Regions from separate parts of the Homo sapiens genome. Here region 2 is linked to region 1. Evidence: fine-mapped expression QTL. A gene starts in region 1. The other region holds a variant in brackets. All regions are shown on one strand. Distances are between the middles of the regions.

Region 1 (4,395 bases):
GGTTGATCCCGTTTTCGCTAAACTCTTAATATCACAGGACACAGTCCTTAGGCCTCTGCTGCTTTCCGTCTACACCCATTCCTTACGGATAACATTTATTCTCATGGTTTAAGTACCACTGCTGATGATCCCCAAATTCATATAGCATAGAACTTCTCACTCCTGAATCTAGCTGCCTACTCAACATCTCTATTTGTTATCTTTTGCATCGTGGCTTAAAGAACTCCATACTTCTACGAGCTTGGGCAAAACCTTTGATTTCATCCTCCACTCCCTCTATCTCACTCTCCATATCCAATTCCTAGCAAATACTGTAAGGCCTACCTTCAAAATGCATTCAGAATCCAACCACTTCTCACCATCCCTACGGTTATCACCCTGACCTGGGCCACTCTCGTCATCTGGATTACTGCAAAAATCTCCTAAATGATTTCCCTGCTTCTACACTCACCCCTACACTCTAATCACAACTCACAGCCAGGGTGATCTTCTAAAACTTCAGTTACAACATACCTCTCCTCTATTCAAAATCTCCCATGGCTTCTATCAGCCTTTACAATGATCCGGCTACCATGATCTCTTTGACTTTATCTTCTTGTCCCTCCACCCCCAAAACTCTTGCTCATCCCTCTCCAGATACACTGGCTTCCTTGCTATTCCTCAAACATGACAGGCCTAAAAGCATTTGTATTGGCTTTCCTATCTGCCTGAATGCTCTTCCTGATATTTACTTAGCAAATTTTCTTAATTCCTTCAAGTCTTTGCTCAAATAACACCTACTAAATGAGGCTCAAACTGACCACCGTCATCTTTAAAATACCAGTTCCCACCTCCACTCTGGAACTTTCCCGTACTCCTTTATATTTCTCTTTTTTTTTTTGATGGCACCATCACTTTCTAACACCATTATATATTTTATTTTCTGCATCCTCTAATAGAATGTAAGCTCCATGAGGGCAAAGCTTTTTATTTTGTTCACTTAAGTAAAATAGGCGTCTAGAACAGTACCTGGCACACAATAGGAGCCAAAAAAAAATCTGTTCAGTAAACGAAGGCAAATATCAGTAAGTATAATATGCGTGTGGGAGGGGAGAGGGGGTTAAAAAGGGCAAGAAGTCCCAATAGGTAGATAAAAACTCCACAGAGTAGGAATACAGAATCGTGCATCGTGTCCCATTTGACAAATTTTTGAGTTTATCTAGAAAATAGCCCTGCGTTAAACGTTTGTTAAAAGTGCTGATTTCAATGTTCTTACATTCTTTAAAAATTCCTTGTTAAGTGTTCTAATCTTTTAGATGTGGTATCAGCCACAGAAATTTATTGTTCCCTTCTTGTTTTGCAGTTCAGAAAATTAGAAGTCAAATTCGGAAGTAACTCGTCCTAGCATTTTTTGATTAAACCACCAAGTTTAAAATTCGTTCCTTTTGTCGGAGTTCGCACGAAGAAAGTTGGAAGGCAGACTTCAAACAACAAGCTACAAAGCACAGGAATGAGACATTTAAAAAATGCTCTCCGAAATTCGGCAAAACTCACAGGGCGCTAGTGGATGCTTTAAGACATTCACCTGGCTGAAAATACGGTGGTGGGCTGAAGACCTCCCCTAGGTGGGTTCTGTGGGCGCCCCGTGAACGACGAGCCTCCCGCCACGGGACGCGACCATCACCGCCGCCTCGCCGCCCTTCTCCGGTGCCGGCCGCGGGGCCTTGCCGGCAACGGTCGGTAACGGGCAGATCCCAGGAGCGAAGGGCCCTCAGAGACTACCCCACCAACGCACTCCGACTCCGGGGGGGCGGCAGGGAGCGCGGCCCTGCTTCCCTCCCTAACCCTGCCCTCCCTAACCCACTACCTGTGGGGAAGGCGCTTCCCTCCGCGGAGCGGACAGAAGCCGCCACGAGCCCGGCAGGAGGTTCCTACTTCTCCGACCACCTCTCCAGCCGCCGCAGAAACCGCAGAACTGAGCTGACGACCCGGAAGTGCTCGCGGAACCTGGAAGTGACACCCCGCCCGAGGGACGGGAGGCCCCGCCCAGCCCTGCTCTCGCCCGCCACTCAAGCCTTGTCAGGGAAGGGCGTGGAGAGGGAAGGAGGGGCGTCGGGCTGGAGCTTGAAGCCTTAAAGTGGTGGACAGGCGCTCTGCTCGAGTAATTCACCAGGTTTACTAAATCGTTCCTAAGGGAATTATAATTTTTAGAGACTAATCTTCTCCATTGTTAGATGCACAATTTAAGAAATGTAGGGCATTCATATTTCATGCCGGAAGTGTGTTCAGGGTAACAGTGTTGAAGACCTTGCAGACGAATTCTGAAAAGATTATAGCAGGGGCCGGGCGCGGTGGCGCACGCCTTAATCCCAGCACTTTGGGAGGCTGAGGCGGGTCGATCACCGGAGGTCAGGAGTTCGCGACCAGCATAATATGGTGAAATCCTGTCTCTACTAAATACAAAAAATTAGGCAGGCGTGGTGGCGCATGCCTGTAATTCGAGCTACTTGGGAGGCTGAGACAGGAGAATGGCTTGTACCTGGGAGGCGGAGGTTGCAGTCAGCTGAGATCGCGCCATTGCACTCCAGCCTGGGAAACAAGAGCGAAACTCCGTCTCAAAAAAAAAAAAAAAAAAAAAAATTATAGCAGGGTAAGCAGGGTATCTTCTTTACCCCTCGAAACAGGGCTGCAGGCAAAGTTTTTAGTTTGTGACCAGTTCATGAAGAACTTTAATTTGGGAGAAGTTATATTTAAAATTTGCATCTAATATGCAAGATAAATACTTCACTATAAATTTCAAGTTTGCAAAATCACAAATTGTTTTAGGTGTCAGGGTGCATGGTACACTAACTGGCTTAAACCCAGCAGTCATGTGTAGAGCAGTTTATCCTACAAAATAGCTGAATAGTGATTAAAGAGTATGTGCAAAACAACAACAACAAAACCACAAAAAACACCAAGTGGTATCAGCTGGAACCTCTGAGCAGGTCTATGAACTAAACAAGTTCTTCTTATTTAAGCCATGTTTTCGGCCAGGGGCGGTGGCTCATGCCTGTAATCCCAGCACTTTGGGAGGCCGAGGTGAGCGAATCACCTGAGGTCAGGAATTCGAGACCAGCCTCAACGTGGAGAAACCCCGTCTCTACTAAAATACAAAAAAAATTTCGCTGGGCGTGTTGGTGCATGCCTGTAATCCCAGCTACTCGGGAGGCGGAGGCAGGAGAATTGCTTGAACCTGGGAGGCGGAGGTTGCGGTGAGCCAAGATGGCGCCATTGCACTCCAGCCTGGGCAACAAGAGCGAAACTGTCTCAAAAAAAAAAAAAAAAAAAAAAAGCCATGTTTTCATTTTAAGCCACTCATGGTTTCATCCTTGGATTCCCCATTAATTAAAAAAAAATCTCAACTATGAAACACAAAGTTTCATTATTGTTTTGATGTTAAAATAAAGCAGGCTGAACTCTCTAATCCCCAAAGAATAGAAGCACTTAGACTATAGAAAGGGAAACAAGTGTAAAGGTCTGAAATTATTTAAGAGGTTTATAGGATAATTCAAAGCAAAAATTTAGTAGCATAATGAAAGAAAAATGTGATAAAAAGACAAAGACGAACGTTCCAATTAATTTATTTAAATTCATTAATGTTGCAAAAAATATGATGTGCAACAAATCAAGACACAAGTTATATTCCTAACAGGTCAAAGAAAATATTACATCTCCTTAGTAAATCATGACCAACTCTGGTATTTCTTACAGGGACCACATTAATATCTTGCACACACAGACATCAGAACTGAATTTCTGACAGTACTCGGCTGGGCAACATCATCTTAAGAGTAGGAAAATATCACAGTACATTAATTTTGTCTAAATGACAGCAATGAACCTGTGGTAACAAAAGTATTTTTGGAATAGATATCAAAGTGTGTTAATGTCTTAACAAACTCTGAATTGTGTTCTGTGTGAATAGTGCTCCAAGGGCTGTGCAAGTCAGTGGCCCTGAACATCATCAATATTTACTAGCTAGGTTTACACAAATAAACAAGCAACTGTTAAACGGACATTAAACTTTACAAAGTCCACATACAAAAAGTGCAGTGTAGAAGCTGATGAATGTTATTTTCCAAGTTCCTCCTTAGCCAAACTGCATAAAAATTTCAAAATGCAAATATTTTAACTTCTTGTTAAACATGATTCTAAGACATCCTACAAGCCTAGTATCATTAATTTGAAAGCACGAAATGATTTTCATTTGGTGCTTACGTGCTTTATGTGAATTTTTCATAGCATTTTACTTAGTTCTCAAAACATAAATAGGTCTATTATAAATAGTTGCAACATACTGTTATATTCAAATTTTAGTGTCACTCCTTACTGTTAAACATGCCAGACTACTTTATTTTCAATTATCCTTTAGAA
Region 2 (4,395 bases), 26 kb before region 1:
CTCCTGTTAATGTTGATATTTTGGCCTCCACACCATGAATCACGAATGTTCTCAAAGGCATTTAAAATAGTGAATCCTTTCCAGAAGGTTTTTCTTTTTTTTCTTTTCTTTTCTTTTCTTTTTCTTTTTTTTTTTTTTTGAGACAGAGTCTCTGTCACCTAGGCTGGAGTGCAGTGGCACGATCTCGGGTCACTGCAACCTCTGCCTCCCGGGCTCAAGCAATTCTCCTGTTTCAGCCTCCCAAGTAGCTGAGACTACAGACACATGCTACTATGCCTGGCTAATTTTTGTGTTTTCAGTAGAGACAGGGTTTCACCATATTGGTCAGGCTGGTCTGGAACTCCACACCTCAGGTGATCCACCTGCCTCGGCCTCCCAAAGTGCTGGGATTACAGGCGTGAGCCCCCATGGCTGGCCTCCAGAAGGTTTTTCTTTTTCCTTTGAGACAGAGTCTCGCTCTGTCACCCAGGCTGGAGTGCACTGGCACAATCTTGGCTCACTGCAACATCTGCCTCTTGGGTTCAAGCATTTCTCCTGCCTCAGCCTCCTGAGTAGCTGGGATTACAGGCATGCGCTATCATGCACAGCTAATTTTTGTATTTTTAGTAGAGACAGGGTTTCACCATGTTGGCCAGGCTGGTCTTGAACTCTTCAGCTCAGGAGATCCACCTGCCTTGGCCTCCCAAAGTGCTGGAGTTACATGTGTGAGCCACCATGCCTGACCCAGAAGATTTTTCAATGGACTTTGCTCAGATTCATCAGAGGAATCACTATCTGTGATAGTTATAGCCTTACGAAATGTTTTTCCTAAATAAGACTTGAAAGTTCAACTTACTACTTGATACATGGGCTGCAGAATGGATGTTGTCTTAGCAACCGTGAAAACAACATGAATTTCCTTGTATGTCTCTATCAGAGCTTGAGTGACTAGGTATGTTTTCAACAAGCATTAATTTTTTTTTTTTTCCTGAGCAGTTGTTCTCAACAGTGGGTTTAAAATGTTTAGTTATCCATGCTATGAGCAGATGTGCTGTCATCCAGGCTTAATTCTTAAGGGTCCTAGGATTTTCAGCATGGTAAATGAACACTGGCTTCAACTTAAAGTCACTCGCTGCATTAGCCCCTAACAAGAGAGTCAGCCTGTGCTTTGAAGCCAGGCATTGACTTGTCCTCTGTAGTTACAAAAGTCCTAGAAGGCATCTTCCAATGGAAGAATGTTTGGTCTACAAGGAAAATCTGTTGAGTGTAGGCTTCTCCACCAATGATCTTAGCTAGATCTTCTGGATAACTTGCTGGAGCTTCTACATTAGCACTTACTGCTCCATCTTGCATTTTTATGTTCTGAAGACGGCATCTTTCCTTAAACCTCACAAATAAACCTCTCCTAACTCCAGACTTTTCTTCTGCAGCTTCCTCACCTCTCTCAGCCTTCACAGAATTGAAGAACATTAGGACCTTGCCTGGATTAGGCTTTGATTTAAGGGAATGTTGTGGCTGGTTGGATTAGGCTTTGGTTTAAGGGAATGTTGTGGCTGGTTTGCTCTTCTGTCTAGAGCATTCAAACTTTCTCCATATCGGCAAAAAGACTGTTTCACTTTCTTACTCATGCGTTCACTGAAGTAGCACTTTTTTAATTTTTTTTTAGGGGTTCTGCAAATGGAGTAAGAACTAGCACTTTTACTTTTCTTCAGGAATTTTTCCATTGTGTTTATGACTTGGCTGACTTTGACACAAGAGGCTCAGCTTTTGACATGTCTTCCTTTGTAAGCTTGATCATTTCTAGCTTTTTTTTTTTTTTTTTTTTAAGACGTTAGTTTTAATCTGTCACCCAGGCTGGAGTGCACTGGCGCCGTCACGGCTTACTGCAGCCTTGACCTCCAGAGCTCGGATTATCTTCCCACCTTAGCTTCCCAAGTAGCTAGGACTACAGGTGCCTGCCACCATGCCCACCTAATTTCTTGTACTATTATTTTTTAATAGAGATAGGGTTTTGCCATGTTGCCCAGGCTGGTCTTGAACTCTTGGGCTCAAGGGATCCTCCTGCCTCGGCCTTCCAAAGTGTTGGAATTACAGGTATGAGCCATTGCACCTGGCCAATGCTTTCAATTCTTTTGGGTATATACCCATAACTGGAATTGCTGGATTATTTGGTAAATTTATATATATACACACACACACACACACACACACACACACACACACACACATATATACATATATATACACATATATACACACACATATATATACATATATATATATTTTTTGAGATGGAGTCTTGCTCCATTGCCCAGGCTAGAGTGCAGTGGCGCAGGTAT[A/C]GCTCACTATAGCCTCGAACTCCTGAGCTCAAGCAATTCTCCTGCCTTGGCCACCCAAGTAGATGGGACTACAGGTGCATGCCACCACACCTGGCTAATTTTTTTTTTTTTTTTGGTGGAGATGGGAGTCTCTATGTTGCCCAGGCTGGTCTCTAACTAGTGGCCTCAAGCAATCCCTCCCGCCTCAGCCTCCCAAAGTGCTGGGATTACAAGTGTGACCCGACATGCCTGGTTGGTAATTCTATTTTTAATTTTTTGAGGAACCATCATACTGTTTTCCTTAGTTGTGCCAGTTTTATATTCTCACCAATACTGTAAAAGAATTCCACTATGTCTATATTCTCACCAACACTTATTAATTTTTTTTTCTCTGCTAGTAGCCATCCTTATGGGTGTGAGGTGGTCTTCAGTATTTTTAAGATTTTATTTCATTGTCTTCTAGCTGCATAGCTGTTAACAAGTAGTCTTTGGAAATCATTATCTTTGTTTTTGTGGGTATAAAGTGTCTCTTACCTCTGCTTTTAAATTTTCTCTTTATCACTATTTTTCAGCAATTAGATTTTGATGTACTGTGGTTATCCTGCTTGGAGTTAAGCTTCTTCGTTGTTGGTTTATAGTTTTCGTCAAATTTGGAAAAATTTGGCCACTGTCTCCTTAATTTCATCTTTCTGTTCTCCCTTCCATATATAGCCACTCGATATTATTCCAAAAATCTCTGAGGTTTGATTCCTTTTTTCCCTAGTTATATTCTCTTTGTGCTGTATTTTAGATAAAATTTGTTTTTCAATTTCACTGATCTTCTTTAGTATCTAGTCTGCTATTCAGTTAATTGTTTTCATATATTGTATCTTTCATCTCTAGAAGTTCTGCTTTTTAAAAAAATCTTTGATTTTTCTCATTAAGTATTTGTATTAATACAAAAATGGCAGTTTTAACATCCTTGTCTGCTAGCTGTATCACCCCTGTCATTTCTGTGTCTGTTCCTGTTCATTATGTTTTGTCCTCATTATGGTCACATTTTCCTGCTGCTTAGCATGTCTAGTCATTTTTCTGTTAGATGGAGTACATTGTAACTCTTAAGTTATTGAGGATCTGGACTTCGTTTACTTGTGTTGGGCTTCATTTTGGCAATATTTGTGGAACAGTGTGATCTCCCTTGAGTCTGCTTTTCCGCTTTGCTAGGGTGAGTTTAAGTCAAGCAGCCTTCATTCAAGGGATATTTGATGCCTGCTACCAAGGCATGACCTTGGGGTTTCTAATGTCTTGGGTGATTACAGAGGACTCTTCCCTCTGGCATCCCCCAGTGTGAGCTTTGGGAATTGCTGTTTCCAACTCCCCACTCTTAGCTTGGCCTAGCGGAGTGTCACTGCTTCTATGCAGCCAGGCACTCAGTAAGGACTCGAGGGGACCACGGTATAGATTCCTGGAGGTTTTTTTTTCCCTCCATAGTGTTCTCCTTTCTGGAAATCTGCTTGCAGCTTCAACTATCTCACCTTTCCTCAACTCCGCAAGACTGCCAGGTTCTGTTTCTATTTCCTTTCCCTGTGCCTGCAGCTTGGATATTGCCTCCATGAAGAGAGCTGGGATGATTACAGGGTTCATCCTATTTTTTTCCTTTCTTAGGGATTACAGTCCTGTCACAGCTGCCTGTGGTCCAATATGTGGAAAACGTTTGTTTCATATACTTAATTTACTTTTCTAGTTGTTTATAGAAGGAAGTTAAGTCCCATCCTTCTTACTCTGGCATGACTAAATGTGGAAGTCTGCAGATAGAGTATTCCTATCAGGGAATAGAGGGAGTAGAAGCAGGAAAGAGAAATGCACAAAGCTTCTGTGTCCATCCCTTAACTTGGCCAAAGAATCAGTGCTGCCCATGTGTCTCCAGAAGTGGAAAGTATACCTTCACATCTCTGCCTACAGGCAAAAGAACCAGTTTTGAAGCCTATTTCTCTTGAATAGAATTTCAGGAAGTTCACAGAATCAGATAATAAGAGTTGGGATATTCAAGAGAAAGTTCCGTTGAGCATATTTCTACACAATGCTCTTTTGAGCTAATTCCCACTAAATACTTTGCTGT

Evidence for each region. PIP is the estimated chance that this variant, and not a neighbour inherited with it, causes the effect.
Region 2: its variant is the best candidate, but not a certain one, in a credible set for the expression of GTF2A2 in memory regulatory T cells (Schmiedel 2018, PIP 0.60).

The regions. Positions count from the first base shown.
Region 1 is chr15:59,655,560-59,659,954 of GRCh38, forward strand. GTF2A2 (general transcription factor IIA subunit 2) reads right to left here and starts at 1,956. Exons shown (of 5, transcript NM_004492.3): 1 at 1,847-1,956. It overlaps BNIP2 (BCL2 interacting protein 2), which reads right to left. Exons shown (of 10, transcript NM_004330.4): 10 at 3,587-4,395. RefSeq lists an enhancer at 1,763-1,992.
Region 2 is chr15:59,629,289-59,633,683 of GRCh38, forward strand. No RefSeq gene overlaps it. Among named protein-coding and RNA genes, the nearest start is that of GCNT3, 20 kb to the left of the region's middle. The variant A/C (reference allele first, on the strand shown) is at 2,319.